Linked DNA regions of Homo sapiens: region 2 is linked to region 1. The links come from fine-mapping of genetic effects on gene expression. A gene starts in region 1. The other region holds a variant in brackets. All regions are shown on one strand. Distances are from middle to middle.

What was found.
Region 2: its variant is fine-mapped to the expression of XPOT in whole blood (INTERVAL, PIP above 0.99).

Annotation. Positions count from the first base shown.
Region 1 is chr12:64,394,197-64,411,529 of GRCh38, reverse strand. XPOT (exportin for tRNA) reads right to left here and starts at 7,138. Exons shown (of 25, transcript NM_007235.6): 1 at 6,726-7,138; 2 at 1,435-1,568. The coding sequence starts at 1,494. It also overlaps the pseudogene RPS11P6. RefSeq lists enhancers at 5,540-6,416, 7,514-7,563 and silencers at 6,524-6,633, 6,964-7,123.
Region 2 is chr12:64,490,605-64,498,604 of GRCh38, reverse strand. TBK1 (TANK binding kinase 1) reads right to left here. Exons shown (of 21, transcript NM_013254.4): 14 at 3,001-3,122; 15 at 2,830-2,906; 16 at 2,199-2,238; 17 at 1,555-1,656; 18 at 1,346-1,442; 19 at 851-957; 20 at 566-637. Among named protein-coding and RNA genes, the nearest start is that of TBK1, 42 kb to the right of the region's middle. The variant C/G (reference allele first, on the strand shown) is at 3,408.

The DNA of each region.
Region 1 (17,333 bases):
TATTAAAACCACTAATAATGTATTGGTTTTAATTTTCTGAAAAAGAAATCATGGCACATTTAAAAAAATTGGATGCTGGAACTTAAGAGGCAAAGAAAATGCCTCTTTCATCCAAAAATTGGATGCTGGAACTTAAGAAATGAAAGATTTCAAGAGGCACATAAAAATAACAGTAAAGGCCATTTAATAACTAAACATACAGTCAAAGGCTTTTAATTACAAGCATGCAATACCAAGCTAGACTAAAGGTAAAGATCTATGATACTTCAACTATGTTTGAAGGTAGGTAGCATAAAACCCTATGACAAGAAAGATTTGTTTACACACAGAAGACATGGATTTTAAATGTCTTTTGATGTCCTAACTTGTTTGATAGGTATCTTGTAATTAGCCAGATACTTAAATCTCAATTCCTATTATTTTCCTGTATCTGAAGGGCTCGTTACTTATTTAGTAGCAGAGACATGCACATGGTACTGTATTAGAAACTAGTTGGGATTGTTTTTTACTGCTTTAAAAGATTTTTTTCTTAAAATAAGAATAAAAACTGCTATAATTTTTAGTGAGATTGTTAACCTCATTTAGCTCATTTATAAAAAGTATTCTTTGCTATGAAAAGTAAAAAGAAAATGCCTCTTTCCTTTCCACTTACCCTATAGTTCCAAATGCCCACGTCTTTAAAAAAAATTAATTATAGGCTCATTCTTTATATTTTTCTATCATTCAGCTATAGTCATGATTATAGTTGTAGGCTACATTATATTTAATTGTTTACATTTATCCAACTATCCCAGCACTTTATAATGGATTCTTGTCATGTAACCATTTTACTTAAGACATAACCTATCATAACTGCTTATTTATGTCTGCCTAGACCAAATAACAAGAAAGTTAAATATCACTAATGTGGCCGGGCAGGGTGACTCATGCCTATAATCCTAGCATTTTAGGAGACTGAGGTGGGCAGATCGCTTGAGCTCAGGAGTTCGAGACCAGCCTGGGCAAGATGGTGAAACCCTATCTCTAGAAAAAAATTAAAATAAAAAAAAAATCATTAAGGTAAGTGTTAAAACAGCTTGTATAGATCAAGCCAAGGAAAGAGAAAATAAAATACACATGTCTGCTGCTATGGAAAGTCTCTTAAACGAATCCTTTGCATTACAATTTTTAAATAATTAGAAATAATGACTGATGTTGCATAAAGATCTGCCTTGAATCATATGAGATTTTAATACTTTTGTTTGGCCAAGTAAACAGAAAATAAATCACAACACTCACTGTTTCTATATTCAAAATATATTCAAATACCTCAAATTTTTTTGTTTCTGTTCATTTCTACCCAAAGTAAACTTTTGCCAGGTGCATTTTTATTCAAGTCCTCTAATGCCAATCTGTGGTGACATGATTAAAAAATGATTCAGCAGAGTAACTTACCCTTTGTCTAAAGTCTGAATCAGCATTTGGATTTAGCCCTAATAGAGCCTGTTCATCCATCCTCGCTGTTATACTTGTAGTTTTCTGGTTGTAATAGGCGTGCCCTCTGATCCCACAGAAGAATTTATAAACATCTGCCACAAAAAACAAAGTTGAAAGAAAACATTACTTGATAAACAAATAGATGCTTATCCTGAATAACGTAAATGGATAAAATCATGCAAAGAAGCTTAAATGTTTAAAAACTTATTTTGGAACTTATCTAAATTACAACTAAAAGTTAGAGCCTAATTCTCAGAAAAATGGGCTCTGCTAACTACTCCACTAATGTGTAATTCCTAAAAATCTGATTTTTTTTTTTGAGACGGAGTCTCACTCTGTTGCCCAGGCTGGAGTGCAGTGGCACCGTATCAGCTCACTGCAAGCTCCGTGTCCCAGGTTCACGCCATTCTCCTGCCTCACCCTCCCGAGTAGCTGGGACTACAGGCGCCCGCCACCGCGCTGGGCTAATTTTTTGTATTTTTAGTAGAGTCAGGGTTTCACCGTGTTAGCCAGGATGGTCTTGATCTCCTGACCTCGTGATCCGCCCGCCTTGGCCTCCCAAAGTGCTGGGATTACAGGCATGAGCCACCCCACCTGGCCCCTAAAAATCTTAAAGTATGCCATAAAGGTCCTCAAGCTTTCTTAGTCTTCAAGATCTTCTTAATAAGGTATAGAAAGTAATCATTTTCTACTTTAAATAGTAGAAGTACCTAATTTATGCAGTGTTTTACTTATCTCTAGTACTTAAAAATGCAATTGTGCAACTGCAGTTAAGTATAAAAATGACAAATGCAGACTATTACAGTAATTATAATAATTTGTCTACTTCCAGATACAAATATCACAAACCTTCTTTAAAACATTAGAATGGCTGACCTCAGAGTTCAATATCCTTTGGAGTGTTTACTAAGTACTATGACAGAAGTCTAATGAAAGGAACAGGATAATGAAAAACCAGTCATTTAGCTTTTGAGCAATGGACTTAGTTTTGCATTTTACAGATCTCTGCTCTTGCCAGCCAATTCTAAAAATTTCAAAAAAAAAAAAGTTTTTCAATAGTAGATACAAAAACCCACAAACCAGCCAGCTACAGTGGCTCACACCGGTAATCTGAGAACTTTGGGAGGCTGAGGTGCGCAGATCACTTAAGGTCAGGAGTTCAAGCCAGCCTGACCAATACGGTGAAACCCTGTTTCTACTAAAAAGACAAAAATCAGCCAGGCTTGGTGGCACATGCCAGTAATCCCAGCTACTCGGGTGACTGAGGCACAAGAATCGCTTGAACCCAGGAGGCAGAGGTTGTAGTGAGCCAAGATTGCGCCACTGCACTCCAGCCTGGAGAACAGAGTGAGATTCCATCTCAAAAAAAACAAAACACACAAAAAAAAATCCACAAATGACTTAACACTGACTACTCTTATTTAAGGATTTTTTTTAATCTCTGAGAGGTAATCCACTTCTTCACAATATAGGTTCCAACATTCTCAAATAATAAGCTGCAAAAGGCATCCTAGTTTTTGATAGAATGCATATTCATTTGAGCAAACATGGAACAAACTCTAAATGATGTGAAAAATGATATTATTCTCTCAAGACCTATAAGGTAGGGAGACCAAGTCTTACTACTTCCATTAAACGCTGTGGGGGGCCAGGCGTGCTGGCTCATGCCTGTAATCCCAGCACTTTGGGAGGCCGAGGCAGGTGGATCACTTGAGGTCAGGAGTTCAAGACCAGCCTGGCCAACATGGTAAAATCCCCTACTAAAAATACAAAAAAATTAGTGGAGCATGGTGGCACACACCTGTAATCCCAGCTACTTGGGAGGCTGAGGCAGGAGAATCGCTTGAACCCAGGAGGTGGAGGTTGCAGTGAGCTGGGATCACGCCACTGCACTCCAGCCTGGGTGACAGAACGAGACTCTGTCTCAAAAAAAACAAAAAAAGGCTGTGGGGCTTTTTGTTTCAATTACCGTTAACCAAAGACGCCAAAAAACTAATTGGATTGGGGGTAGGGGAGAAAAGCCTTTTGGGAATAGCAGGGGTAGGGGAGAAAGGCCTTTTGGGAATAGCAAAACCAGGCTCAGGTCCAGGTTACAGGATACCTACAATAGGCTTTTCTGTTTTCCTCTGAGCCTGCCTGAATCAAATAACTCAGGATATGGACTGAGAGCTTTGAAGACAGCTCAGCCCTTTCTCTTATGGTTCATAACGTACTTGCAGACTTCAAGGCAGTGTAACTCCCTACTGCCCTCAGATTACGATCCAAACACTTTTGAATAACTCCTCACTATTCTGCACACCAGGTCAGCAAGGCCAGTGCTAGTGAACCATATGGCAGTTCTCCAGTGGTATTCTACCTTTCATCTTTGCACACTGCTCTTTCTTCTTGTTAGTAGGTTAACCCCTGCTGTCCTTTGAAATTCAACTTAGAAGCCATCTCTTTCAAGAACACTTCTTTGACCTCTATTGTCCAACTCTCCCAAATTGGATTACATGCCCCATCCTAAGCACTGCTATGCTGTCACTGCCAGCTTACTAGTTTTCTCTCATTAATCTTTTTTTTTTTTTTTTGAGACAGTCTCACTCTGTTGCCCAGGGTGGAGTGCAGTGACATGATCTCGGCTCACTGCAGCCTCTGGCTCCTGGGTTCAAGTGATTCTTCTGCCTCAGCCTCCCAAATAGCTGAGATTACAGGGGTGAGCCACCACACCCGGCTAATTTTTGTATTTTTTAGTAGAGATGGGGTTTCACCATGTTGCCCAGGCTGGTCTCGAACCCCTAATCTCAGGTGATCTGCCAGACTCGGCCTCCCAAAGTGCTGGGATTACAGGTGTGAGCCACCCGGCCATTTCTCACAATCTTAAAGGGCAAGGACTGTCTTGACTATCCATCACTATGTCCCTAGGACATAGTAGAGCATAGGTTTTGGATTTCAAAGACCTGGGTTTGTATCCCCATCTTGTCATTTTTTAATTGGGGCCACTTGGACAACTTACAAAACCTGAGAGAACCCTTTCTATGACATGGGAAAAAGACCATATGCCTCATAAAGTTGTAAAGGCTTCAAAGAGATAAGGTATGCAGAGCATGGCTGGCACATAGTGAGCCCTCAATACGTTGTTTATAGTCAGAGGTAGGAACATGTGGAATGGAAACGACTTGGGGCATTCTTATACCAGATCAGCATTTTTAAAAGACAGAAAAACACAAAGAAAGGCACTGGTTCCCTTCGCCCCCTAAATGTTAAGAAAATCTGATGTCCATTCCCCTGAAAAATGCCCACAGAGAGAAAAAACGATTTCGGAGTTTCTAAGAATCCCTGATTGAGAAGTCCAATAAAAGCTTCCTTGAATTTGCTATGGCTTTTTAAAAAAATGCTGGCCAGGCAGGGTGGCTCACGCCTATAATCCCAGCACTAAGGAAGGCCGAGGGGAGGGGGGCGCAGATCAACTGAGGTCGGGAGTTCGAGACCAGCCTGACCAACATGGAGAAACCCCGTCTCTACTAAAAATACAAAAATTAGCCGGGTGTGGTGGCACATGCCTGCAATCCCAGCTATTCGGGAGGCTGAGGCAGGAGAATCGCTTGAACCCGGGAGGCGGAGGTTGCAGTGAGCTGAGATGGCGCCACCGCACTCCAGCCTGGTCAACGAGAGCGAAACTCCATCTAAAAAAAATTGCTGGCTGGGCACGGTGGCTCACGCCTGTAATCCCAGCATTTTGGGAGGCCGAGGTGGGCGGATCACGAGGTCAGGAGTTCGAGACCAGCCTGACCAACACGGTGAAACGCCGTCTCTACTAAAAATACAAAAATTAGCTGGGCATGGTGGCCTGCGCCTGTAATCCCAGCTACCCAGGAGGCTGAGGCAGAAGACTCGCATGAACCCGGGAGGGGGAGGTTGCAGTGAGCGGAGATCGTGTCATTGCACTCCCGCCTGGGCGACAGAGTGAGACACTGTGTCAAAAAAAAGAAAAAGTGCTTAAGCTTGGTCAAGTCACTCTGAAGCTATCGGGAGAAAAATGAAGTGGCCCTAAGGAAAACATAGCCAATAAACCCAAGGAAACAAACTAGTTAACAGTTGTCACTACAGAAAGAATCCCCCACATAGAAGGCATTTGGACGATCAATATGCAGTGGAAGGCCGGGCGCGGTGGCTCACGCCTGTAATCCCAGCACTTTGGGAGGCTGAGGCGGGCGGATCGCGAGGTCAAGAGATCGAGACCATCCTGGCTAACACGGTGAAACTCCATCTCTACGAAAAATACAAAAAGTAGCCAGGTGTGGCGGGGCGCACCTGTAATAGAGCTACTCGGGAGGCTGAGGCTGCAGAATCACTTGAACCTGGGAGGCAGAGGTTGCAGTGAGCCGAGATGGCACCACTGCACTGCAGCCTGGGCGACCGAGCGAGACTCCGTCTCAAAACAACAACAACAAAACCCCAAAAAATGTTTCAATACGGTAAACAATTATGCATCTTGCAAAGGTTCTTGGGGGAAGGCAAGCAACATACTTAAAATATTAAGCCTTAACTTTTCCTGGATAGCCATTAAGAATCAAACAATTTGGAAAAATTCCTCTACACCTACTGAAGACTGTTTCAAATACTACGACTGAATCTTTCCAGCCTTTTAACACCACGCTGACAAGTCGGTTTAATAAAACGTAACTCTCCCCCAACCCCCGCCCGCCACAACTAATTAGCACTTTCAAAAAGTACTCGTTTTTCTGGTTACAGGGAAACCTCATGCTTCTCTAGTCCTGCAGGATGGTGAGGAAGGTTTGAGAAGAAATGGAGCGTCCGTGCTGGCCAATTACTGCACAGAAATAACACTTTTCCTTTTTGTCCAGGGGTGGGGGAAGAATCAAGTTTGAGGTCTCCACAGTTGATAACGCTACAACGATGACTAACGGGCTTCGGAACCACAGGCGATGCCGACCCTCCTCTGCTAGCCTTGCTCCCATCCCTCCCCCGATCCCTCCCCTAAAGGAAGCCTCGTGGCAATTCGGGTGATGAAACACCAAGCAACCGCCGGCCACGCACTCGGGACGCGCTCCTCGGCGGCGGCCCCGGCTCGTACCCACCCCCACCCGGTCCGCCCAGCCAGGGGGTGCACCGCCATAGAGGGTCCCAAGCCTGCACCCTCCCTGGCGTCGGGACTCCCCCGGGCCGGTCCGCCCCGGCCAACTTCCTCGAAGCCTCACGCGGACCAAACCTGGTCCCGGTCCCGCTGCCCCCGAGCCCCGAGTCACCTTCCCTATCACTCCATCCCGCCTCCCAGCCTGCACTCCAGATGGTCAGCCAGCGGAGCGGAGCGGCGCGGCACGCAGAGAGCTGGGAGAGCGGCCCTCGTCCTTGTCGCCGTAGTCCTCCGCCACGGCCGCAGCTACAACGCCAGAGACGGTGCTGGCCGGGACCGCGCGCCTCTAGTCGCTCTGCGTCCCCTGGCACCTTCTCTTGCGTGGCGCCGGGCAGGCAGGCAGGCAGGCAAGCAAGCAAGCAAGCAAGCGGGCGGGGTCGGCGCCCCAGGAAGGGAAAGAGCGCGAGGGCCGGCTAACGCCGCCGCCGCCGCCGCAGCCGCCGCCGCCGCTGAGTCAGCGCGAAGCGCGCTCCCCGCGTCGGTGCCGCGCGGGCGGGCGCCGGCGCCAGCAGTCTCTTGGAGAGTGCGGGCGGCAGCCCGCGGGCTGACGCCGGAGGCCTACAACTCCCAGCATGCAGGGAGCGGCCGGCGCTTCCGGGCGGCGAGGCGCACACGCGCTCCCTGGCGCTCGCCGGAAGGCGTGGTCACCGGGGCTTGAGGTGCATGCCGGGATGAGGCATCCGGCCCAGGAGTCCCTACCCAGCTCCTAAATCCCCGGCTGTGTCTGCGTGGTGTCAGAGCTCAAGCGTCAGGTTCGCCCCGAGCATTCCACAAAGGGCTTCTAGTAGTTGAGAGTACGGATTCACGAATCAGGATGACGTGGTTCTAACCACGTGTGAGTCAATTTAATTGCTTGTCTACGGCCCCAAGTGTCCCGAGTACAGCAGTGTAAAGCTCTGATGAGTGCTGACAGGTTTTCAAAATTAATTAATTAATTTATTTATTTATTCTTTGAGACGGAGTCTCGCTCTGTCGCCCAGGATGGGGTGCAATGGCGAGATCTTGGCTCACTGCAACCTCCGCCTCCGGGGTTCAAGCAGTTCTCCTGCATCAGCCTCCTGAGTAGCTGGGATGACAGGCGCGCGCCACCATACCCAGCTAATTTTTGTATTTTTCGTAGAGACAGGGTTGCACCATGTTGGACAGGCTGATCTCGAACTCCTGACCTCAAGTGATCACCTGCCTCGGCCTCCCAAAGTACTGGGATTACAGGCGTGAGCCACGGTGTCCGGTCCAAAATTTATTTTAAACAGACTAAAATTTTGTCCATGAAAAGAAGGAGAGCATTCTTAGGAAGTCCTACTCACGGGATCTTTCGATGCTACTAAATGTCACTTCATTTATTTGGTCACAGATTTATTAATTTATTAATGCAACATAGAGGCAGTGTAGGCTTAGGCTGCCTCGACTTGACTGCCACTCCGCCTCCTCACTAGTTGACCTCAGGCACTTTACTTTAGTCTATCCATGCTTCAGTTTACTCGTATGTAAAATGGGGATTGTTAATAGTACCGACCTCAAAGGGTTTCTGTGAGGTTTGAGTTAATACATGTGTTTGACACACAATGTGCTCAATATTTACATTTCATTGTTGATTATTCAATGTGTACTAAATACAGACTAGGTTGCTGCCACAGACTACAAACAAAACTTGGAGAGGGAGGAATGGTAAGAGCATAGAATAAAACTAATGTTTTAACAGCTACCTTTATTTAGCTGTCCAAGACACTACACCAGGCATTTCCTATATAAAATACCTTGAATCACTCTTGCATCATGTTTCTAATTTATGTGTTTAAAATGTCAGGCTAGTGGCTACAAGATGTCGCTAAAGGAGAACTGGGTTTTAATTTTTTCTTGTTTTTAGAGAAAGGGTCTCGCTCTGTTACCCAGTCTGGAGTAGAGTGGTCATAGCTCACTGCAGCCTTGACCTCCTGGGCTCAAGCAATCCTCCTGCCTCAGCCGCCCAAGGAGCTGGGACTACGGGTGCATACCATCATACCTGGCTATTTTTGTTTGTTTTTGTAGAGATGGGGACTTGCTCTGTTGCCCAGGCTGATCTCTAACTCCCAGGCTCAAATGAACCTCCCACCTCAGCTTCCCAAAGTGTTGGAATTACGAGTGTGAGTCCCTGTGTCAGGCCTTAATTTTCTTCACGCTGCTCTCAGTTGGCTTCCCAACGAAATAGGTTCTTTGTTGTTCTGGCATACAAATTTTCTTTTGATTGTAATCCTTGCATGCATTATGTTTCTACTATTCAAATTATTAATTATTCAAATTAATTATAAACAAGAAGTATCTCTTGTTTTACTTCTGAGAAAACCAAAGTCATGGTATTCTCAAGACTAGAGATAATTCAACAAAGCCTGTGAATCTCCCTCATTTGGAATCTCTCTGGGCCCAATCTGTTTTCCACTGCTAGGGCGCTGCTGCTAAAGCTATATCATATGAAACCACCCTCCCTAAAAGCTCAGGGACCATCTCCAAATAGGAGGGCGAGTGAAACTGTAAGAGCTGGATTGATGGGTGGAATCTGGAAGCTAAAGTAACTCCATCTTTGGTACTAATCTGCCATGTTGGTTTCTGATTAACCCTGTTCCCGGAAGGCCTTTAAGATTTCAAGTTGTGTGAGAGCACATACTGTAAATTCTGCCCTTACGTCAAAACAGCCTTGATGTTATTGTACTTCAGTTGTCTACACATCCTGACGTGGTTTGGCTGTGTCTCCACCCAAATCTCATCTTGAATTGTAATTCCCATAATCCCCTCATGTCATGGGCGGGATCAGGTGGAGATAATTGAATCATGGGGTTGGTTTCCCCCACCCTGTTCTCGTAATAGTGAGTTTTCATGAGATCTGATGGTTTTATAAGGGGCTTCCCCCTTTGCTGGGCACTCATTCTTCTCTCCCCTGCCACCATGTGAAGAATGATGTGTTTGCTTCCCCTTCTGCCATGATTGTAAGTTTCCTGAGGCCTCCTCAGCCCTGAGGTACTGTGAGTCAATTAAATCTCTTTCCTTTATAAATTACCCAGTCCCAGGCATTCCTTTATAGCAGTGTGAGAACAGACATAATACACATCCCTTCTGAATTACATATACCCTTTCCATATGGGGGTTAATGGTGAGGGGATCCACCATCTTGTTTCACTGCTGCTGGAGACACAGGCATGGCTTTTTTCACAAGTTGCTATGAATGTTATTTCTAAGAAAAAAAATCTCAGGCTAGGATTTCTGCCCTACCTATTTCAGTATATCTTTCGAGTCTAGCACAGTGCCAGCCTGCTAGTTTCAACTCAATAACTGAATCATTGCATGAATTCTTATATTAGCTGTGATGATCAACTGTGGAGTATGAAGGCCCAATACTAATCTTGGGCTGAGTGCCTCTGCAATCTGTATGTTCAGCATATTCCAGGCCTCATCCTAAAGAATATGGCAATTCAATCTATCGTATTATAGATGTCTTTACTTGCTGTTTTGTTTGTAAATTCATTTTATGGCTACTTCTTATGTTGAATGTTATACAAAGCCTATCTTCAGTTTATCTACAGTTTATCTACTAACATTAGCTCTTTCGTTTATGGTAGTTGAAATACCTAGAATTGTAGAAATCTCTTTCAACTTTGTAAACTCATATTATTTCAGAACAAATAAAGAGGCTAGGCGCGGTGGCTCATGCCTGTAATCCCGGCACTTTGGGAGGCTGAGGCAGATGGATCACAAGGTCAAGAGATCGAGACCAGCCTGGCCAACACAGTAAAATCACGTCTCTACTAAAAATACAAAAAAAAAATTAGCCGGGCATGGTGGCACATGCCTGTAGTCCCAGTTACTTGGGAAGCTGAGGCAGGAGAATTGCATGAACCTGGGAGGTTGCAGTGAGCCGAGATTGCGCCACTGCACTCCAGCTTGGGCAACACAGTGAGACTCCATCTCAAAAAAAAAAAGCCGGGTGTGGTGATGCATGCCTGTAATCCCAGCACCTTGGGAGGCCGAGATGGGTGGTTCAGGAGGTCAGGAGTTCAAGACCAGCTTGGCCAACATAGTGAAACCCTGCCTCTACTAAAAATACAAAAATTAGCAGGACGTGGTGGCACATGCCTGTAGTCCCAGCTACTCGGGAGGCTGAGGCAGGAGAATTGCTTGAACCGGGAGGTGGAGTTGCAGTGAGCTGAGATCGCACCACTGCACTCCAGCTTGGGCAACAGAGTGAGACTTCATCTCAACAACCACAACAACAACAACAACAAAAAGAACAAATAAAGAAGCACTTGGTAGAATCCAACTGAAGAGGACCTAAGAGAGGTATTACATTTGACCATTCCATATTCTGCCTCCTCCGTCCATGAAGGGATGGGCAGTTTCTCATCTCAGATGAAAATGTTAGTCATCAACATGTTGACAAATAACACTATCATTTTGTAACTGCCCAAAAGGCTCCTTTTGTAACTGCCCAATAGGTTCCCTGCTGCCTAGACAGACCCAATTTATCAAGATAGGGGAATCTCAATAGAGAAAGAGTAATTCACATAGAGCTCCCTGTATGGGAGACTGAGTTTTATTATTATTCAAATCAGTCTCCCTGAGCATTCAGGGATCAGAGTGTTTAAGGCTGATTTGATGGATGAGGGAAGGTCAGTGAATTGAGAGTGCTGATTGGTTGGATCAGAGATGAAATCAGAGAGAGTTGAAGCTGTCCTCCTGCGCACTGAGTCAGTTCCTGGGTGGCGGCCACAAGATCAGATGACCCAGTTTTTTGATCTGAGTGGTGCCAGCTGATCTATCAAGTACAGGGTTTGCAAAATATCTCAAGCACTGATCGTAGGTTTTACAATAGTGGTGTTATCCCCAGGAACAATTCGGGGAGGATCAGAATCTTGTAGCCTCCAGCTGCATGATTTCTAAACAATAATTTCTAATCTTATGGCTAATTTGTTAGTCCTACAAAGGTAGTCTAGTCCCCAGGTAAGAAGGGTGTTTTGGGAAGAGGCTGTTATTGTCTTTGTTTTAACTATAAACTCTAAACTAAGATCCTTCCAAAGTTAGTTCAGCCTATGCCCAGGAATGAACAAGGACAGCTTGGAGTTTAGAAGCAAAATGCAGTTGGTCAGATCAGATCTCTTTCACTGTCTTGGTTATAATTTTGTAATGGTAGTTTCAATTTTAACATAAAGCATGTATGCTTGCATATGACAATGCTTTTATGTATTAATTGCCAATATTTTTGAGCATGTTTGCCAAACAGTTTTTTTTGTTTTTTGTGTTTTTGTTTTTGTTTTTGAGACAGAGTTTCACTCTTGTTGCCCAGGCTGGAGTGCAATGGCGCGATCTCGGCTCACCGCAACCTCTGCCTCCCAGGTTCAAGCGATTCTCCTGCCTCAACCTCCCGAGTAGCTAGGACTACAGGGATATGCCACCACACCCGGCTAATTTTGTATTTTTAGTAAAGATGGGGTTTCTCCGTGTTGGTCAGGCTGATCTCGAACTTCTGACCTCAAGTGATCTGCCAGCCTTGGCCTCCTAAAGTGCTGGGATTACAGGCATGAGCCACTGCGCCTGGCCATCAAACACAGTTTTAAAGTGTTTATACATCGATCCTCACAACTCTATGGAGATAGATACTATTATTATCCCCATTTTATAGACAAGGAAACTGGAGTGCATAGAAGTTAAGTAGCTGAACTGGGATTCATTTGTAGTCATTGAAATACAACTAAAAAATAAAAAAAAGAGCTGGGATTGAAACACACATAGTCTGACTCTAGAGTGTGTGCCACTAACCTATCTCTCAAATGAAGGTCCATTAGGATTGATGACAGTGTAGGACTATAGTACTGAGTCTGTTCTTCCTATAAATATGCTCAGAAGGCCCTTTCTTATAATGACAAAACTTTATTTGTACCTGTCCCATGTCTCCCTTTTCTTTCAATTGCTGAAGTACTTGAAAGAATTATGATAGATAACATTTGTATATGTGGTCCCTTATGGTTTTCACCGTGCCTCCATGTATCTTCTAATTTGTTCCTCTAACATTGTAGGGATGGAGCAGGTATCATCATCACCATTTTAAATTTACAGATGAGGAAACTAAGGTAGATCTATTTTAAGGAATGTATCCCGAGTTACATAACTGGTAAATGGTAGACTAGAACCTTGGATTCTTGATTCAAGATTTCTTGCCTCCAGTACATCACATTCGTTTCCTGTACGTACTCTTCCTTTCCTTCACTTTTTGTAATCTGTTTTTTCACTCCCAAGTCACTCAACTAAAACTCCTACAAATTTTCCAGTCGTGGGACCATTTTTATTCATTTATTCTTTTCTTTCAACTTCTCTGTTGACTATTTCCTTCCTCTTCAGAATTCTCTTCTCTTTTGACTTCTGACCCTATATTATTATTAAACTCCTTTTACTTTTTTGACCATTCCTCTTTGTCTTCCTCACCATATCCTTTTGCTCCCTTAACATGTTTTCTTCCCCAGGCCTTTGTTCTTAGCCATCTGGTTTTCCTTTGCCTACACCTGCTCCCTTAGTAAATTATCTATTTCTGCAGTTTCAACACGCAATTCTATGAAGATGACTTCCAGTTCTGTACTTCTGGTCCTAATATTCTGTACTGCCAACTTGCATTCACAGATGCCTGCATGTCTCACCAGCACCTCAACTCTAACATGTCTGCAATGGACTAAATGTGTGTGTCTCCCAAAATTTATATGTTGAAACCCTCACTCACTGTATGGTATCTGGAGGTGAGGCCTTTGAGAGATAATCAGGTCATGAGAGTGGAGCCCTCATGAATAGGATTAGTGCCCTTGTAAGAGGAGCTAGAGAGCTCTCTTTCCACCATGTGAGGATACAAGAAGACAGACAGCCATCTTCAAACCAGAAATTAGGCCCTCACAAGACACTGGATCTGTCAGCACCTTGATCATGGGCTTCCAGACATTTCTTTTCTATAAGTTTTTGGATTTTTAAAAATTCTCAGCTGAGTGTGGTGGCTCATGCCTGTAATCCCAGCACTTTGGGAGGCTGAGGCGAGTGGATCACGAGGTCAGGAGTTCAAGACTAGCCTGGCCAAGATGGTGAAACCCCGTCACTACTAAAAATACAAAAATTAGCTGCGCGTGGTGGCAGGTGCCTGTAATCCTGGCTACTCGGGAGGCTGAGGCAGAGAATTGCTTGAACCCAAGAGGCGGAGGTTGCAGAGAGCTGAGATCATGCCACTGCACTCCAGTCTGAGCGACAGAGGGAGCCTCCGTCTCAAAAAAAAAAAATTCTGTACAGTGACCATGTACTACTTTGATAATCAGAAAATTAAAAAAAGAAAAACAAACTTTTTTTTTTGCTTTGTCACCCAGGCTGGAGTGCAGTGGTCCAATCTCTGCTCATTGCAACCTCTGCCTCCTGGGCTCAAGCAATCCTCCCTCCTCAGCCTCTGGAGTAGCTGGGACTACAGGTGGGCACCACCATGCCCAGCTAACTTTTTTTAGTAAAGATGAGGTCTCACTATGTTGCCCAGGCTGGTCTTGAACTCCTGAGCTCAAGCTATCCACCTGCCTTGGCCTCCCAAAGTGTTGGGATTACAGGTGTTAGCCACTACAATTGGCCAAAAAATTTAAAAACTGCCTATAATAAAAGGTAAAAAAGAAATTGTTTCATTCACTCTTCGAGCATTTATCGAATTTACCTCCCTCATGAGGTCTTTCCAGATGTCCTCAACCAGGTTTGTGCTTGATCATATCTTTGACACAGCTTGCTAGTTTTTTTTTAAATCTCTAATTGCATTAATATGTTTTAATATGTTTTTGTTGTGTATTAAGTTTGTGTGGTTATCTTACCTATTAGTCATTTTTTGTGTGTATGAATGAGAAAATAACTTTATTTCATTTTGGGGAGCAGGCAGACATTCAGCCTCAGAACTTCTGGAATTGCTTCTTGATGTCTGCGACCTTGGTGACCTTGAGCACATTGAAGTACACCGTCTTGTTCAGGGACTGGCACTTATCCAACGTGACAATGTCGCTGATCTGGACATCCTGAAGCAGAGGAACAGGTGCATGGACAAGTTCTTGTGGTACTTCTCGAAGCAATTGTACTTGCGGATGTAGTGGAGATAGTTTCTCTGGATGACAGTGGTCCTCTGCATCTCCATCTTGGTCACCATGCCATACAGGATCTGCCCTCAGATGGAGACGTTACCAGTGAACAGGCATTCCTTGTCAATGTAGGTGCCCTCAATAGTCTCTTTGGACCTCTTGAAGCCTAGACCGATGTTCTTGTAAGTACCATAGGAGCTGCTTCTTGCCAGTTTCCTTTAGCAGTACCCTCTTCTTGCTTTGAATGATGGTCAGCTGCTTGTGGTAGGCATGCTCAGTCTCAATCCACCATCTTCTTGGCTGCCTGAGAAAAAACTAGACAATTATTATTATTATTATTATTTTGAGATGGAGTTTCGCTCTGTCACCAGGCTGGAGTGTGGTGGTGCGATCTTGGCTCACGGCAACCTCCGCCTTCTGGTTCAAGCAGTTCTCCTGCCTCGGCCTCCTGAGTAGCTGGTGCACCACCACGCCCAGCTAATTTTTGTATTTTTAATAGAGACGGAGTTTCACCATGTTGGCCAAGATGGTCTCGATCTCTTGACCTCATGGTCCACCTGTCTCGGCCTTCCAAGATGTTGAGATTACAGGTGTGAGCCACCATGCCCGGCCAAAACTAGACAATTTTTAAAGATTGAAAGTAAGTGTTATCCTGATTCTGTTTATGGCTAATAAATATTTCTCAGTAAATATTTGTGAAATGTATTGAGTTGAACCAAAAAGAACATAATTACGAGCTGATAGCTGCTGAGTTCTGTGTCAGATTCTCTGTGTGTTTCATCTCATTGTTCTTAAAGCCGAATGTCATTGTCACTAAAAGCTTATGCATAATGGGCTTCTTGGCAGAGAAAGAAGTTGGAAAACAGGTCAGGAATGCTGCCTTTATTGGTCCTATTCCAACCATTAGTTCCTCTTACAGGAAGTACATGTGCAGCAGGAAGCCTGAGAGGCAAAATAGAGCATTGGAGTATTATTCAGTGAAAGAAAACATTAATCCAAATCATTTGTCTGGTTTTTATAACAATGACATCTTTCCTTTGTATGTCATCTAATTACTAATAGTAGATTACTAATAGTAGATATTTAAATGATCAGTATCCATTAATAATAAGTATAGGGCTGGGCGCGGTGGCTCACGCCTGTAATCCTAGCACTTTGGGGGCCAAGGCAGGTGGATCACCTGAGGTGGGGAGTTCAAGACCAGCCTGACCAACATGGAGAAACCTTGTCTCTACTAAAAATACAAAAATTAGCTAGGTGTGGTGGTGCATGCTTGTAATCCCAGCTACTTGTGCGGCTGAGGTAGGAGAATTGCTTGAACCTGGGAGGCAGAGGTTGCGGTGAGCCAGAGGTTGCAGTGAGCCAAGATCGCACCATTGCACTCCAGCCTGGGCAACAAGAGCGAAACTCTGTCTCAAACAAAACAAAACAAAACAAAAACAACAACAACAAAAAACAAGCAACAACAACAACAACAAAAAAAACAACTAAGTTGAAGCACTAAGAGATTCCTAAATGAGACACCTTTAAAAAGTCAGGTTTAGGGCTGGGTGTGGCGGCTCATGCCTGTAATCCCAGCACTTTGGGAGGCTAAGGCAGGCGGATCACCTGAGGTCAGGAGTTCGAGACCAGCCTCAACATGGAGAAACCCCGTCTCTACTAAAAATACAAAATTAGCCGGGCATGGTGGTGCATGCCTGTAATCCCAGCTACTTGGGAGGCTGAGGCAGGAGAATTGCTTGAACCCGGGAGGTGGAGGTTGCAGTGAGCCGAGATTGCGCCACTGCACTCCAGCCTGGGTGATAGAGTGAAACTCCTTCTCAAGAAAAAAAAAAAAAGGTCAGGTTCTATTTATAGGCCACATATTCTAAATATCTTACTGTGTGTACTGTCTGTCTTTAGTTTCAAGTGGGGGGAATGGGAATACTTGGGATCCCTAGAAGCATTGAAGAGTACTTCTAGTTTGGAATCCTTACATGGTTCTCATGGCCTAACCTGCTGGTCTCTTCTCCACTAAAAATGTGACCCAAAAAAGGTAAAATTTGCCTTGGGTCAATCTCAGAAAGTTAGACTTGTATCCAATCAGAAGAATTTAATATTACCTTGTAGATAGGGAGCAGAACGACCACATATGTAACAGGAAATCACATACTTGTTGAACTTATTCTTTCTTTCTTTCTTTATTTTTTAAGACAGAGTCTCACTCTGTTGCCCAGGCTGGAGTGCAGTGGTGCCATCTTGGCTCACTGCAACCTCTGCCTCCCGGGTTCAAGTGATTCTTGTGCCTCAGCCTCCCAGGTAGCTGGGACTACAGGTGCCCGCCACCACGCTGGCTAATTTTTGTATTTTTTGGTAGAGATGGGGTTTCACCATGCTGTCCAGGCTGGTCTCGGACTCCTGACCTCATGTGATCCACCCACCTGGGCCTCCCAGAGTGCCGGGATTACAGGTGTGAGCCACCATGCCCAGTCAACTTGTTCTTTAGACGCTTATATAGTATTTACTCCAGTCCAGGTTCCTGTTCTAGGTACTATTGAAACTTTTTAAATCCTCGTAATAACCCTTTGGGGGTTGGTACTATTATCTCCATTTCATAGATGGGGAAACTGAGGCATAGGTCA
Region 2 (8,000 bases), 92 kb before region 1:
AAAGAAAAGGTTCTATTACAGAGCCAAATATGACTTAATTTCTCTGAGGAATCAGGATAAGGAAAACTGCCATCCAAAAATTGCTTTATTGCCTCTGCAGGCTTTCAAATCTCTTTGGCCTTATCTATTAGGATTTTGCAGATAATAAGCAGACACCTAACTCCTCAAAGTACTGCATTTACCTGTGGCTTTCACCTGCAAGGAGGTGTGCAGAGGACCCCGTAAGCTACTCAGCACCAAAGTGCTGGTATCTTAAAAAGCAACTCTGATTCACCAAATTGAAAATTATGATTCCAATGAATTAAGTTATAAAAATAATGTAAATAGAGTTTGATCTTTACAAACTGATTCAAATAAGTAATTCGATTAACCAGTGCTTCTATAAAATGGAACTAATCAACCATTAAAAGGCATCACAGATACACAATCATAGAGAGAAAAACATGAGTTCTGACTTTATGACCCTTTACCACTGCTGAATCTATTGATACAGGAAGATATAAGTACAGATGTGAATGAACTCAATTGCACAGAAAATCACAGTAATTATTTTTGCATTACTCACCTTTCTAAAATGTGGTTATTTTCAGCAAGTTCTTTAACCACCCCTTCCATCTCTTCCTTTAATTTCTTCATACTAATAAAATAAACAAGCACCTTTGCTCAAAAACAGTATGCAAATGTTTTAGAATGATGTTTATGTTTTATTTTCTTTTAACTGGTCAATAGATAACCTTATTAAACATTGTATTACAACAAACATAAAAAATTTCAAAATGTAAGAGCAAAAGCACAAACTGCAATGAAAGCAAATGGAAACACTACAGTTTCCAAATGATGAGTTTCTTACCCAAGAGTCATTTCTACTAATGTGTTAGAACTTGGATAAATTGGGGTCATGGTATGTTTGATTCCACTGGAAGCTGTAAACATTTTCTGAGGCAGAGTTTCTTGTAACTGAAACATCAAAAAAAAAAAAAAAAGAAAAAAACCCCACATTAATCACAGAACAAAAGTACTTACTACAGATCTGACATCAAGTGTTACAGCTTTTAATAAGTCCTTTAAAAAAACTTTAAATTTTGATTTCAAAACTATCGATGATACAATACTTAAATCAACACCCTTTTAAGAAAGAAACTTTTCATACAGTTGATAAAAGGATGGTTTATCAGCTGTTTTTAGTTGTAAAACATCTACATTCTTAAAACTTGGCTCAAAATACATATTAAAAATTGGTGGGTGGAACTGAATGTAGGCACATTCTATCCCATTTCTCCCTTGTCAATCACTATCAGTTATAAACTGAGAAGAATTTTAATTTTTCCTTGACAGCTGTACCTACCTCATTAGTATATTCTTGATATTTTGATACTTCTTCTTCAATATCAAAACACTGATTAGTCAGCGATAATAACTGTTTCCTAAGATGAAGCATCTTTCTGAAAACCAAAAAGAATCAATTGATATGCAGTCTAGTGAAGCATTCTTACTTCAAATATACATTTATATTGTGCAGTCAACCACTAATCACTCCAAAAGAAGTTTACTCACCTTATCCATTCTTCTGACTTATTCAAAAATGCCTCATACTTTTTAACACATTCATCTGTAAAGTGCGTCATAGCTTTTGTGGCATGGTAATACAGTTTTTGCCTGTAATTTAGAAATAATCAGAGGCTTAAACCAATGTCACTGTTTCTACTTTCAATATTTAGAAATTTTCAAATATATGAAATGTATCTTTCCTATAATGATTGTTGTGGCTTTAGAATATTTACAGGAGAAAGTAAACGTTTCTAAGATAGACATTATAGCAGCAAGAAGATAAAGAGAAGGTTCAAAATGGATGTAAAAAAAATGCCTATTGAATGCGGTTAAAATTAAGACGGTAGTTAAGTCTGCCCTTGCCTATGTGCTGTATTATCTGTACTTCTGTAATCAGAGCATATGAGGCAGAAGCTGACTGACTGAAATGGTAATCTTTCTCCCCCCTCCTTCTCCCATCATGGTAACTTCCCAATTAGGGAGCAGATGTGTGAACCTCAAAAATGTCTACATATTGTAACAATCCTGTAAAATCAAGATTAAAATGTATTTTTAAATTGTAATTAATTTCAACTTTAAGAAGAATCATATTAATAAAGATAACCAAAATAGCACCAAAAATAACTATTAAACATAATCTGGATACTTACTTATCAAATTTGTGGATTTGTTCTTCATTATAAGCTAATCCTAGAAATAGGAAAATATATTACTGTTGTTAATATAGAATCATAATATTATACACAATGTATTTTCTTTTGAGATTATTGCTTCAAAAAGGCTAAGAGTCTGAAGCAGATGTCATAGATTTGTGGCTCATTGGTTACTTATGGCCCACAGATGCTTTTATTTGGTCTGTAAATAACAATGTAAAAAACAATTAACAGTTAACATTTAAAAATCAAGGTATTTCTAACAAATTCTGTATTTCTAGCTTTTTTTGAGAAATGGGAAGATTGGGCAATACCTTTGGTGAATATGAGTAGTGGCTCTCCCCTGTAGATGAGTCCCCACTGGCCAATCTCATTCCTTTCTGTTACCTGCCTGGCCTTTAGAGGTTCTGGTGTTCATGACCCTGATTTAAAGTATTCAAAAGGTTGATTTTAAGGATAGTTTTTTTTTTTTTTTTTAACACAATCAACCTTTTTCCTGACAGAATCACATCTCTGAAAAAAACAGCTTAAGAAGCTACCCTTACAGATATACCAAATTAATTTAACTGAATTATAACTAATTACTAAGAGGGATTTATTAAATTAACAAATAGCAAATTTTACTTACTACGTTCTGCTTTGTCTTTTTTGAACTGATAGTAAATCTCTGTCATGCAATTTAACAGGACTTGTAGTTTTTCTACACTATTTAAGGAAGAAAAACTCAAATAAATTAACTGAGTCAATGTGAAAAAGGACATTAATAAGAGCAGAAACTACGCATAAAGCTATAACCTACTTTCTGTCTTTCGGATGAGTGCCTTCTTGATGTGCCCATGCGTCTGCCAGTGATCCACCTGGAGATAATCTGCTGTCGATATCCTGAAGACTGGTTTCTATTGTTCCCTGAGAACTGGAAAGCTAAATAAAACCAAAGGTTCAGATCCAGATTGCCAAAAGCCAGAAATGATCATCACAGTCCCAACAAAGTCTAAAGTCTGGACCACATTTCTTTTGTAGATTACTTCAATTCAAAGGCACAGTAATTATTTCCATTTTTAAATACAAAAGAGTTTCTTAGGTTGATTTCCACCAGGGGTACAGTATGATAATAAAACATGAGACCAGCAGTAATACATCTTATAAAACAGTTCATTCAGTAAACACCCTTCTAAAACCACATGTAAAATACTTCTAATCTTGTTT[C/G]CTTATCTGTAAAAAGTGGTTAATTCTCCATTTCATAACCCGGTTTTGAAAATTAAATAGAACCACTAGAATAGTTCCAAATATCAACTGTGTAGGCAGCAAGATTTGTGCTCTTCTTGTTTAGAGGCCAAACCAAAGCAACTCCTCTTAAAAACAGAAAATGAAAAGAAACCTCATCTAAGATTCTGTTCATTTTAAGCTTAGTAAGTTTATCACTTACCTACCACAGAAATGCATACAGTATTTGTAAAACTTATGAAGAAAGGATGAAGGTTAGACTTAAAGGATAAATATGTCCATATATTTTAAAGGTCCTGATACACACTATTGCCTTTCAAATAATGTTGTCAGTAGTAGCTGACATTGCCACTAGCAACAAATAAGGATGCCCTTTAAACCACACTCTTGTCAGCACTGGCATTATAATTTTTTAAGCCTTGATAATCTGAAAGACAAAAATAGTATCTTACTGTTATGCAATTTTTTCTTACTATTGGATTTGAGCATTTTTTCAAGAGTGTTTTCACCAGATATATTTTCTTCATTTATAAATTGTCTCTAAATGTTCTGTGCTCATCTATTTTTTGCAGATTGACTATTTTCCTTATCAATTTGTATGAGTTATTTTTTATAAAAAACCCTTTATCACATTTTCCCAACTTATTTGCATTCTAACATTTTTTAAACATGTACAGATCTTAAATTTTTATTTTATTTTTGAAACAGAGTCTCATTCTGTCGCCTAGGCTGGAGTGCAGTGGTGCAATCTCAGCTCCCGCAACCTCTGCCTCCTGAGTTCAAGCCATCCTCTCACCTTAAGCCTCCTGAGTAGATGGGATTACAAGTGCGTGCTATTGCGTCTTGCTAATTTTTTCTTTTTTTTCTTTTTTTTTTTTTGGTAGAGTTGGGGTTTCACCATGTTCCCAGGCTGGTCTTGAACCCCTGAGCTCAACCAGTCTACCCCCACCTTGGCCTCCCAAAGTGCTGGGATTACAGGTATGAGCCACTGTGCCCAGCTTAAATTTTTATATGATCAAATATATATCTCGGTTTTTATGCTTTATGTCTGTTTTAACATTAATGTTTAGAATGTGTTAAATTATACATCCAATATATGGAAAATAGTTTATGGAAAAAGTCATTTCTTACAGCATTACATAGAAGAGTGAAAAGCAAACTAAAGGACCAACAGTAGAGCAATAATAAGTAAGACTGTAATAAATCCACTGGCTGCAACATCATATCATTAAGAAAATGGTGTTACCAAAAAAACCTGGGAAATGCCTACACTATAATGGTATCCAAAAAGTAAAAATAACAACCATATGTTTGTAGAGTAACAGTCATTTAATAATACATATAAAAGAAAATGAAAACAGTGATTACCCAGATTTTAGCAGCATGAGAATCACCTGGAAGGCTTATTAAAAAGGGCCTTTGCTGGGTTCTGCCAGTGAGTTGCTGACTCAACACATCCGAGGTGGGGTCCCAAAATGTGCATTTCTAATAAGTTCCCATGTGAGGCTGAAGCTGCTGGCCCAGGAGCCACTCTTCTTTACTTTTTTTTTATTTTTTGAGACAGGGTCTCTGTCGCCCAGGCTGGAGGACAGTGGCATGATCTCGGCTCACAGCAACCTCCATCTCCCAGGTTCAAGTGATTCTCTTGCCTCAGCCTCCCCAGTAGCTGGGATTACAAGCGTCTGCCACTACGCCCGGCTAATTTTTGTATTTTTATTAGAGACACGGTTTCACCATATTGGCCAGGCTGGTCTCGAACTCCTGGCCTCAAGTGATCCGCCTACCTCAGCCTCCCAAAGTTCTGGGATTACAGGTGTGAACCACTGCGACCTGTGGCCCAGGAGCCACTCTGAGAAGCACTGCTGCAGGGCAATGGACAAAACTTTTAAGCATCATTTTTTGGGTGCATAATATATGTGGTATTTTTTTCTACTTATAAATTTTACTTTTGTGGTGGGAAAAATGTCTGTAAGGTCTCCACTACGAAGCCGGGCGCAGTGGCTCACGCCTGTAATCCCAGCACTTTGGGAGGCCGACGTGGGCAGATCATGAGGTCAGGAGATTGAGACCATCCTGGCTAATACGGTGAAACCCCGTCTCTACTAAAAATGCAAAAATTAGCCGGGCCTGGTGGTGGAAGCCTGTAGTCCCAGCTACTCGGGAGGCTGAGGCAGGAGAATGGCGTGAACCCAGGAGGCGGAGCTTGTGGTGAGCCGAGACTGTACCACTGCACTCCAGCCTGGGCAAAAGAGCAACTTCGTCTCCAAAAAAAAAAAAAAAAACAAACAAAATTAGCTGGACGTGGTGGCGGGCGCCTGAAGTCCCAGCTCTCAGGAGGCTGAGGCAGGAGAATCACTTGAACCCAGGAGGTGGAGGTAGCAGTGAGCCGAGATTACGCCATTGCACTCCAACCTGGCGAAAGAGTGAGACTCCATCTCAAAAAAAAAAGAAAAAGAGAAAAAATGATATCTACGGAAAAGTAATTGGCTTGAAGTGAGAAGTCCTGATGTCATAAGACTCCATTACCTCAAGCTATTTAGTCATCTATGCTTTCTCATAAGAAATCTTAATCTTGGCTAGGCAAGGTGGCTCATGCCTGTAATCCCAGCACTTTGGGAGGCCAAGGCGGGCGGATCACCTGAGGTTGGGAGTTCCAGACCAGCCTGACCAACATGGAGAAACCACTTCTCTACTAAAAATACAAAATTAGCTGGGTGTGGTGGCACATGCCTGTAATCCCAGCTACTCGGGAGGCTGAGGCAGGAGAATTGCTTGAACCCAGGAGGCGGAGGCTGCAGTGAGCCAAGATCGCGCCACTGCACTCCAGCCTGGGCAACAAGAGGGAAACTCTGTTTAAAAATAAATGAATAAATAAAAAGAAATCTTAATCTCACAGGAATGTCATAAAAATGAGAAACATTTTGAGATCCCCAAAAGAAAATATATTAATTTTGATTTAAAGTGCTCAAACGATGCTGGCCCTGGAAATAAATGTCCACTAGGCCTATGAGCAGGTAAATCATGTTCTAAGGTGAAAACAGAGAAGAATATAAAACACTGACAGCAATATGGCTGCCTATATTTAAATGCAGACAAATACTGGGGAAGACTATTTTGTGCTTTCTGACTTTTAATCACCTTATTCTATAGCTATGGTTTTCAAACTTTCCTGACCACAACTCATAGTAAGAAACTCACTGTTTTAACTCAGTAACATTTAAAGTGTGTATATACCTGAATCAAAGTTTCATAAACAATGATTTCCTTATTATATGTGACACATTCTGACATTTTCTATTCTGTTCCACTGAAAAATACATTGCTGATTACAAGGCACCCAACTTCATAACCTACTAGTTGTTCATTACTCATATTTTGAAAACCACTGTTTGAGATCTAAAACTGAGGAAAAGAAACAAACATCAGCCTAAGCTGGAAAGTGAAAAGGATATCGTATCAAGTTCCTTTCACTTTTAATTTAACATCCATTTTATGAAAGAATACTTCGAATACTAAAAGCTTGCAAGATTACAATATATTTATTTATTTATTTATTTGAGACAGTCTCGGCTCTGTCACCCAGGCTGGAGTGCAAGTGGCACGATCTCGGCTCACTGTAACGTTCGCCTCCTCGGTTCAAGTGATCCTCCTGTCTCAGCCTCCCAAGTAGCTGGGACCACAGGCATGCACCACCATGCCTGGCTAATTTTTTTGTATTTTTTGTAGAGATGGGGTTTCATCATGTTGCCCAGGCTGGTCTTGAATTCCTGGACTCAAGTGATCCATCCGACTCAGCCTCCCAAAGTGCTGGGATTAGAGGTGTGAGCCACCACACCCAGCCAAGAGTACAGTATTTTTATTTATCTCATTTAATTAGTACAACAACCCATAAGACGGGCAGGGTAAGAAATTGCTGATTTTAGAGAAAAAGAAACCAAGGATGCAAAGAATTAAAAGGCCTTGCTTAAGTAGCCAGTCATGAGTAGGCAGGTAAATGGGGCAGGTCTGGGAGTAGTAATCAGCTCTCACTGATTACTAATATATAAACCTGCGCACTTCTATAATACATGTTAATAAGAGATTCAGAGACTCCCAGAAGTTCTATTGTATTTTTCAGCAGAGTAGAGACTTGTGTCCTAATTTCTTTTTCTAGCTATAGAAGTAATTACTGCCTTGAAGACCTCAAATCTTTCTTTCCTTTTTTATTTTAGAAAAAAATCTGATAATATTTTTCTAATTTAAATCTTTTTTTTTTTTGAGATGGAGTTTCACTCTTGTCACCCAGGATGGAATGCAATGGTGTGATCTCGACTCACTACAACCTCCGCTTCCTGGGTTCAAGCAATTCTCCTGCCTCAGCCTCCCAAGTAGCTGGGATTACAGGTGCCCACCACCACACGCAGCTAATGACACGGGGTTTCACCATGTTGGCCAGGCTGGTCTCAAACTCCCGACCTCAGGTGATCCACCTGCCTTGGCTTCCCAAAGTGCTGGAATTACAGGCATGAGCCACCGCGCCCAGCCTAATTTAAATCTATTTCTAAACAAGCTCAAGCACTTTACATTCAACTGCAT